Linked DNA regions of Homo sapiens. The protein of the gene in region 2 interacts with the protein of the main gene of each other region in a pairwise test. Each region holds a gene or a part of one and is shown on either strand. Other genes may lie near its edges. The genes, in order: PRMT7 and MNDA.

Region 1 (3,821 bases), on a different chromosome or scaffold from region 2:
CTTCCTGTTGACGGGGAGTGCAGGAAGAGGGGTAGCCTTGGGAAGGTTGGGAAGTGGTGAGGGCGATTCTTCTGGTTTACACAGAGTTTGAGCTCTCTAAAGGTCAGCCAAGCAAAGAGGCCCAGAGATGCATGGATTTACTCAGTGAAGAGGGCATGGTTGAGGTCACTGTGGAGAGTGTGGAGGGAGACAGTCCGGACCAGGGAGTCCCCTTGTGAGGTGGGGCGGAGGAAGCACAGCCTGGGGAAGGCAGCGGGAGTGAGTCCAGTTAGAGCAGCATTTGTCTACCAGAGCAAGGTTGGGAGATGCTTCGCAGGGAGGCCAGTTATTCTGCTAGCCTTTTACCATGCCCAGAGCAACCCCTACAGCAGAGAATCATTTGGCCCAAGAGGCCAGTGGTGTCCTGGTGGTGAAAGCCATGTGGGTAGCAGCTGTGAGTGTGCTCTTGCCGGGTCCCTATTGCCTGGTGCATGGAGGACGTGGAGTGGATGCAAGAGGTAGGAGGAGAGCCGGACAAGGAGCCGGAGCCGGAGCCACAGCCCTAGGGGCTGAGTGTGCAGCAGTGCCCAGCGGCGCTAGAGGGCTGGGCAGCTGAGGGGGCACCGTGGTCCACAGGGCTTTGCCACAAGGAGGCTCTTGTTTTGGTGCTGGGCAGGAGCGGCACTGAAGGGACACTGAGCCCAGAGCCAGGATCACCACCCAGCAGCAGGACGTGAAGCATTTAAGAGTGCCAGGTAGCCAGGAACTTAGCTGACAGAAGTCATTTTAGGCACAGTGTGTGTTCTTTTTGAAATGTAGTACCCTTTTTTTCCCTTTTCCAAGGGCATAGGGCTGAAAACAGTTCACTATTCTAATAGTATAAGGTGTTGGGCATTACTGAACCAACCTAATGTTAAGGAATAAACCTCTTTTGATCAATGGGAATTACTGTGGGTCTAAGCATCTGATTTTTGTTTGGTTTTGTTTTTAATATAAACTTAGGAAAATTGTGAGGCCGTGCCCCACAGAGCCACCGTCTATGCACAGCTGGTGGAGTCCGGGAGGATGTGGTCGTGGAACAAGCTATTTCCCATCCACGTGCAGACCAGCCTCGGAGAGCAGGTCATCGTCCCTCCCGTTGACGTGGAGAGCTGCCCTGGCGCACCCTCTGTCTGTGACATTCAGCTGAACCAGGTGTCACCAGCCGACTTTACAGTCCTCAGCGATGTGCTGCCCATGTTCAGGTACCAAGGAGCCACCATAGGTGATGGCGCTTTGAGACATTTGATGGAAGTTGGGTATTAGGAGGTTCTTTTTGAGTGGGAAGGAAATCTAGCTGCTGTCACCTGCCTCGAAGGCAAGAGTCCTTTGCAGCCAAATGTCATTGCCAGTGAAGTCACTGTAAAAGCTTAAAAAATGGAGTGTGTGAGGTTAAACTCTGCTTACATTCTTGAATATTATTCCTCAGCATAGACTTCAGCAAGCAAGTCAGTAGCTCAGCAGCCTGCCATAGCAGGCGGTTTGAACCTCTGACATCTGGCCGAGCTCAGGTGGTTCTCTCGTGGTGGGACATTGAAATGGACCCTGAGGGGAAGATCAAGTGCACCATGGCCCCCTTCTGGGCACACTCAGACCCAGAGGAGATGCAGGTAAGAGGCAGGAGCCTAGCATGTGCCCTGTCAGGAAACTTGTCCACTGCTGTTCATGGGAAAGTAACAGTTGAGCCTTGGACCCAGGAGAATTTAGAGACAGGAGGGCTGTGTCAGAATCAAAGACAAAAGTTTTTAAAAAGCAAGCAAAGGCTAGCTGTAGTAACGTAGCCTTCCCAGGGTGAGCTCATGGTGAGCACTCATGGACACAGTGAGGAACAGAGAAGTTGGCTTTCCTCTCCCGCCTCATCATGATGCAGCCACCCTTAGATACCACCCCTCATCCCCTGAGTAATCCCAGGGGGCTCCCATCAGCTTGGAATAGAGAACTACAGCCTCACCTTCTGTGGCCTCAAAATCTCCTTTCTCCACCCCGATAGAAAGTAGGCAGAGGACATGAAACACAGAAAAGGAAATACAGATGATGGGGATAGTTGCCCACTGTCCCTCATAATAAGAGAAATGCAGTTTTAGCTGCTCACAGCACCTATGCTCCCAGCCTCTCAGGAGACTGAGGCAGGAGGGTTGCTTGAACCCAGGAAGTTGAGGCTGCAGTGAGTCGGGACTGCATTACTGCACTCCCGCCTGGGCAATAAGATGAGAACCTGTCTCTAAAAAAAAAAAAAAAGAGAAATGCAACTTTAAACTGCAATGAGATCTCATTTTCACCTACTAGTGAATAAAGTTTAAACAGTTTGCAAGCACACTGTTGGGGAAGCTCAGGGAAAAAGCAGGAAAGCGAGTCATCAGAACGTTTCAGGTAGAAAGCAATGCTGCTTTCAGACATGGGGCTGTGGCTGGATTTGCGTCTGTGCAGAATAGATGTGTGCAGCCCTGGTTTAGTAGAAAAAGGCCAACCTAAAGGCCACTAGCAGGGATCAAGTCCATTATCCTTTCAGTGGGTGAGGTAGCTCTCTGTGCACTGATGTGGGACAAGCTTCAGGGTGGATTATTACCTGACACAAAAATAAAGGTGCAGAATGGTGTGTTGTGTGGCAGCACTGGTGTTAGTAAAAATAGGAATATATGTGTTTGTGAGTGGATAGTCATGTGTGGTGTACATATAAGGAGGTCTTTGGAAGAATTCCCAGAAATTCGTAAAACTGACTGCATCTGGGAATGGGGACTGGAGGTTAGGGGTGGAAAGGAAACATATTTTTTACTATGCGTCCTTGTATACCTTTTGAATTTTCTCTCATGTGCTTGTGTTATTTACACCCCCATCCACCCTCTCTCACTCTCACACTCAAAGGAAAAGAAAGTGGGAAAGGTGTGTCGGAATTGCCTGATGGGTTCTTCCCACCCACTGTTCAGACAAAACCAATTCGCTGACACCATGGCATTGCAATAAAGACTTTAATTGACACGAAGCCAGCCACACCACGTGGGGGAGAGATTTGTTACTCAAATCAGTCTCCCTGAAAATTCACAGGCTACGGTTTTTTGTTTGTTTGTTTTGAGATGGAGTTTCGTTCTTGTTGGTCAGGCTGGAGTGCAATGGCGCGATCTCAGCTCACTGCAACCTCTACCTCCCGGGTTCAAGCAATTCTCCTGCCTCAGCCCCCTGAGTAGCTGGGATTACGGGCATGCGCCACCATGCCTGGCTAATTTTGTATTTTTAGTAGAGATGGGGTTTCTCCACGTTGGCCAGGCTGGTCTCAAATTCCCGACCTCAGGTGACCTGCCCCACCGGCCTCCCAAAGTGCTGGGATTACAGGCGTGAGCCGCTATGCCCGGCTCAGGCTAGGGTTTTTCAAGGATAGTTTGGCAGGCGAGGGAGTCCACTTCTGGGTGGAGTCATCAGACAGAAACGTAAAAACCCGAAAAGACATTTCAAAGGGTCAATCTTAGTTTCTGCAAGGTGGTGTTATCTGCAGGAGGAATCAGGGAAGGTTGCAGATCTTGTGACCTAACAATGGCTTCACCTTAGCAGAATTCAGCCTCCTCTCATCCTCCTAACCTGATGATCTTTCATTCAGTTTAAGTTTAATTTTGGGGAAGGACGGTTATCATTTAAAGTATTAACCAGCTGGGTGTGGTGGCTCACGCCTGTAATCCCAACACTTTGGGAGCCCCAGGTGGGTGGATCATTTGAGGTCAGGAGTTCGAGACCAGCCTGGCCAACATGGAGAAACCCCACTTCTACTAAAAATACAAAAATTACCCGGATGTGGTGGTGCGTGCCTGTAATTC
Region 2 (3,821 bases):
AACTAGTCTTACTTTTACTAAAAGGTTTCTGTCAGACAACCAAGTAGGTTTCTTTATGGATAAAGACATGACTCTATTTTTCCTGAAATCCTTCAATGAGTTTTGATTTTTATTAGTATAGATTTCTACTCAGCATGACTTGAAAGGCCTTGCATAAACTGTATCTTTCTTTTTGTGTGTGTCTGTTACTTTTGAATTTCTTATACCTTATGCTCTAGAAATACACAATATGTCTTTCTTTTTCAGGTCTTCTTACTGCTAATTCCCTTCCTGCTATCTGGGAAAGCATTCCCAGTTTTCTTCCTCTGAATACTTCCTTAGAGTTTTTAATGCTTAATTGAGGCTTTATCTTCTGCGAGCTGTTGTGGTCCCACTCTCACTTATGTGTGCCTCTTTAACCCCTTGTGTACTACCTAAGGGCATTCAGTTCCTAACGTATATTCCAATTTTCTGTTTAAATTTATAGGTATTCCTTTAGGTTGGTGACCATGTGTTTGTGCAACTTTTATATAATTAGAGTGTCCAAATTCTTAGGGCTGTAAATTGTTCTCTTTTGGGAGAACATGAGTGTTCCTGTGTTTAAACCTATCAGATAAAGAGAAATTTCACACATGGGCACATATAGTAAAGCCAAAGAATATTAAAAGCAAAATGATAAAATCTTCCAGAAATACTGAGTAGAACACCTACAAAGATTAAATAATCTGATTGAACAGTCTGCAGCAGGTTAAGAAAGTAATTTTTACATAGTACTGATCCATAATTATATGTCTGCAATTTTAAAACCTAAGAAGATACTGAAGGATGAAAAGATTTGTGCGGTTTGGGGGCTTGGGAAGGGATGAGAGTTAGCAGGGAAGTGTGGTAGCAAAATCATCTTGCAAATTAGAGATATAATGTGAAGTAATACGTGGCTGATATGGTTTGGCTATGTCCCAACCCAAATCTCATCTTGAAATATCATCTTGTGATAGTGAGCAAGTTCTCATGAGATCTATGGTTTTATAAACATCAGGCATTTCCCCTGCTAGCACTCATTCTCTCTCCTGCCACCCTGTGAAGAGGTGCCTTCCATCATGATTGTAAGTTTCCTTAGGACTCCCCAGCCGTGCGGAACTGTGAGTAAATCAAATCTCTTTTCTTTATAAATTACCCAGTCTCAGGTATTTCTTCATAGCAGCGTGAGAAGGAACTAATACAGTGGCTATTTTTAATCTTCCTTATTCATCTCACTTTAATGTGAATAGTGGCATGATTTGTTGAAGAACTCTTAATGCATTTGATATTAGGATGTTGATATTACCTCTACTGGGACACTTGCAGTGCCTACATACAATGTATGCATTAAGTAGTCTTTCTAAAATCCCCCCCTAAAAAAATGAATTAAAAATCAGAGTTGTCCCAGGGGTTTCAGGTGAAGTGCTGTGAATCAGTTTTCAAGCAAAAATATTTTTCAAACTAAAATTTTGTATCTGGTCAAAATGTTATTTGAATGTTATGGTTTAAAAAATTGTTCTCTTCTCACTGAGAGTGACATTAGCAAGATTGCAGACAAGGACGTTCCAGACTTTCATTATACCATGGAAACACCAAATAAAGAACAATTTATGAACCAAACTAATGTTTTCAGCTGTTAAGAATTGGTTGCAACAAAGGAAATTCCAAACCAAGATTAAGCCACATTCAAAATAGTGGAAAACTTCTAGGTGTTTTTCTTTGTCCCTGTTTAACTTTCTCCCTTGAATGGTGTGACGTGATCAGGAGGAAACTTCCTAATTCCTCATTCTTCCTTTGGAATAGAAGGAAAAGTGTGGAACTGCTTTGCAACATTATAGCTTCTCTGTAGGTTCCTTGAGGGACTAGTAACTGCTTCACATGACTTGGAGCATTGATGGAAATGGTGGCATAGTTTAAATGTCAGATTTGAGGCTGCAAAAAGTAGTGGTGGGTGCTCCAGCTTGTGAGAGCTTCATGGGATCTGCTACTCCCTGGGTGCCAGAAGGCAAGAGATTATGGATAGAGGAATACAGTAGAACATCTAAGGTCATGAAAAGAGGCAGGTGTGGCTCTTAGGGAAATTACAGATTAAAAGCAGTGTGTATATGAGAGAATTACAAAAAATGCACACACATAAGCCCAGGCAAGACACACGTCCATATAGGCCTCAGAGAACGTTTATATTTCATACTTAGCTGAAGAGTGAAAGTCCTCCCCTGAATATGGTGCCAGTTAACAATGGTTGAGAGGGGGCTGTTTTTACAAATGTCCAGTTTTCAACAAAAGGTATACAAAGAAACAGGTAAACATGGTCAATTTTAAAGAAAAAAATGAATCTCCACAAACTTTCTCTAAAGAAACACAGCCCTCAGACTTTCTTGTCAAAGACTAAAACAGCACTCTTAAATATGATAAATGAGTTAAAGGAAAATAGGTAGAGACAACTAAATAAAATCAGGAAAATGATTAATAAAAAATGAGAATAGACAAAAAATAGAAATTACCAGAAAAAATTCCATAAATTCTGAAGCTGAAAAACACATTGACTGCATTGTAAAATCCACTAGAGGGGTTCCTCAGCCCACACCAATAGGCAGAAGAATCAGTTAGCTTTTAGACAGGTCATGTGTAATTATCAAGGCTGAAGAACAAACTTTTTTAAAAGATATAAAGGAAAGTGAACAGAACTTATAAAGTTCATCAAGTGGGACAATATATGCATTATGTAAGTCTGAAAAGGTGATGGAAAAGAGAAAGGAATAACAAAATTATTGAGTAAATAAGGACTGAAAACTTTCCAAATTTGAGAAAAGACTAAATGTACAGATATAAGAAACCAAACAAGCTGCAACTATGATAAACTCAAAGAAACTTACACTATGACACATTATTATCAAATTACCAACACTCAAAGACGAAAAGAAAATCATTTAAAAAGCGCAAGAAAAAGGCAACTCATTATATCCAAGAAATCTTCAATAGGATTATGAGCACATTTTTCAGCAAATACTTTGTAGACCAGAAGGTAGTGGGACAATACATTTCAAGTGTTTAAAGAAAAGTCTGTCCATCAAAAATGCTATATCTGGGAAACCTGCTATTCATAAATGAGAGAAATTAAGACATTCCCAGATAAACATAAGCTGAAGGATTTCATTACCACTATATCTACCTTAAAAGAAATACTAAAGAGATTTCTTCAAGCTGAAACACAAGGATGCTAGATGGTAACTCAAACTCATACAAAAATGTAAGTTCTTGATGAAAGGTAAGTATATACATAAACATGAAACATGACTTTTGCTATTTTGATTTGTAATCATTTTTTATTATTTTATAGGATTTAAAATGTGAAAGCAAAACAATTTATAAATCAATGTTAATTGGTACATATTATATAAATGCAATTTGTAATATTAACATAAAATATGTGTTGGGGAGCTGTAAAGGAGTAAACATTTTGCATATGATTGAAGTTAAGTTGTTATTAGTTAAAAATAGATTGCTATAACTTTAGAATATCATATGCAACCTGATGATGACCACAGAGATATCTGTAGGATGTACACAAAGGAATAGAAGAACATAAAAATGTTTCACTACAGAAAAAAATCAACAAAAAGAAGTCACTAAGAGACAAAAACCTATTAAGACATACAGAAAACAAATAAAAAATGGCAACAATAAGTTCTAAGTTCTTCCTTATCAATAATTAGTTCAAATGTAAATGGTTTAAACTTACTAATCAAAAAGCATATTAAAATTATATATACATATATATCACAATGAATTTAAAAACAGGGGATCCAAGTATATGTTGCATA

Evidence for each region.
Region 1: the proteins of MNDA (region 2) and PRMT7 interact in a two-hybrid assay, tested with the Homo sapiens proteins (one large-scale study listed by BioGRID and IntAct).

Annotation. Positions count from the first base shown.
Region 1 is NC_000016.10:68,338,341-68,342,161, forward strand, and holds part of PRMT7 (protein arginine N-methyltransferase 7), read left to right. Parts: intron 1-981; coding exon 982-1,223; intron 1,224-1,447; coding exon 1,448-1,628; intron 1,629-3,821. UniProt on the Homo sapiens protein: Arginine methyltransferase that can both catalyze the formation of omega-N monomethylarginine (MMA) and symmetrical dimethylarginine (sDMA), with a preference for the formation of MMA.
Region 2 is NC_000001.11:158,837,612-158,841,432, reverse strand, and holds part of MNDA (myeloid cell nuclear differentiation antigen), read right to left. Parts: intron 1,119-3,821; exon of another isoform or gene 1,037-1,118; intron 1-1,036. UniProt on the Homo sapiens protein: May act as a transcriptional activator/repressor in the myeloid lineage. Plays a role in the granulocyte/monocyte cell-specific response to interferon. Stimulates the DNA binding of the transcriptional repressor protein YY1.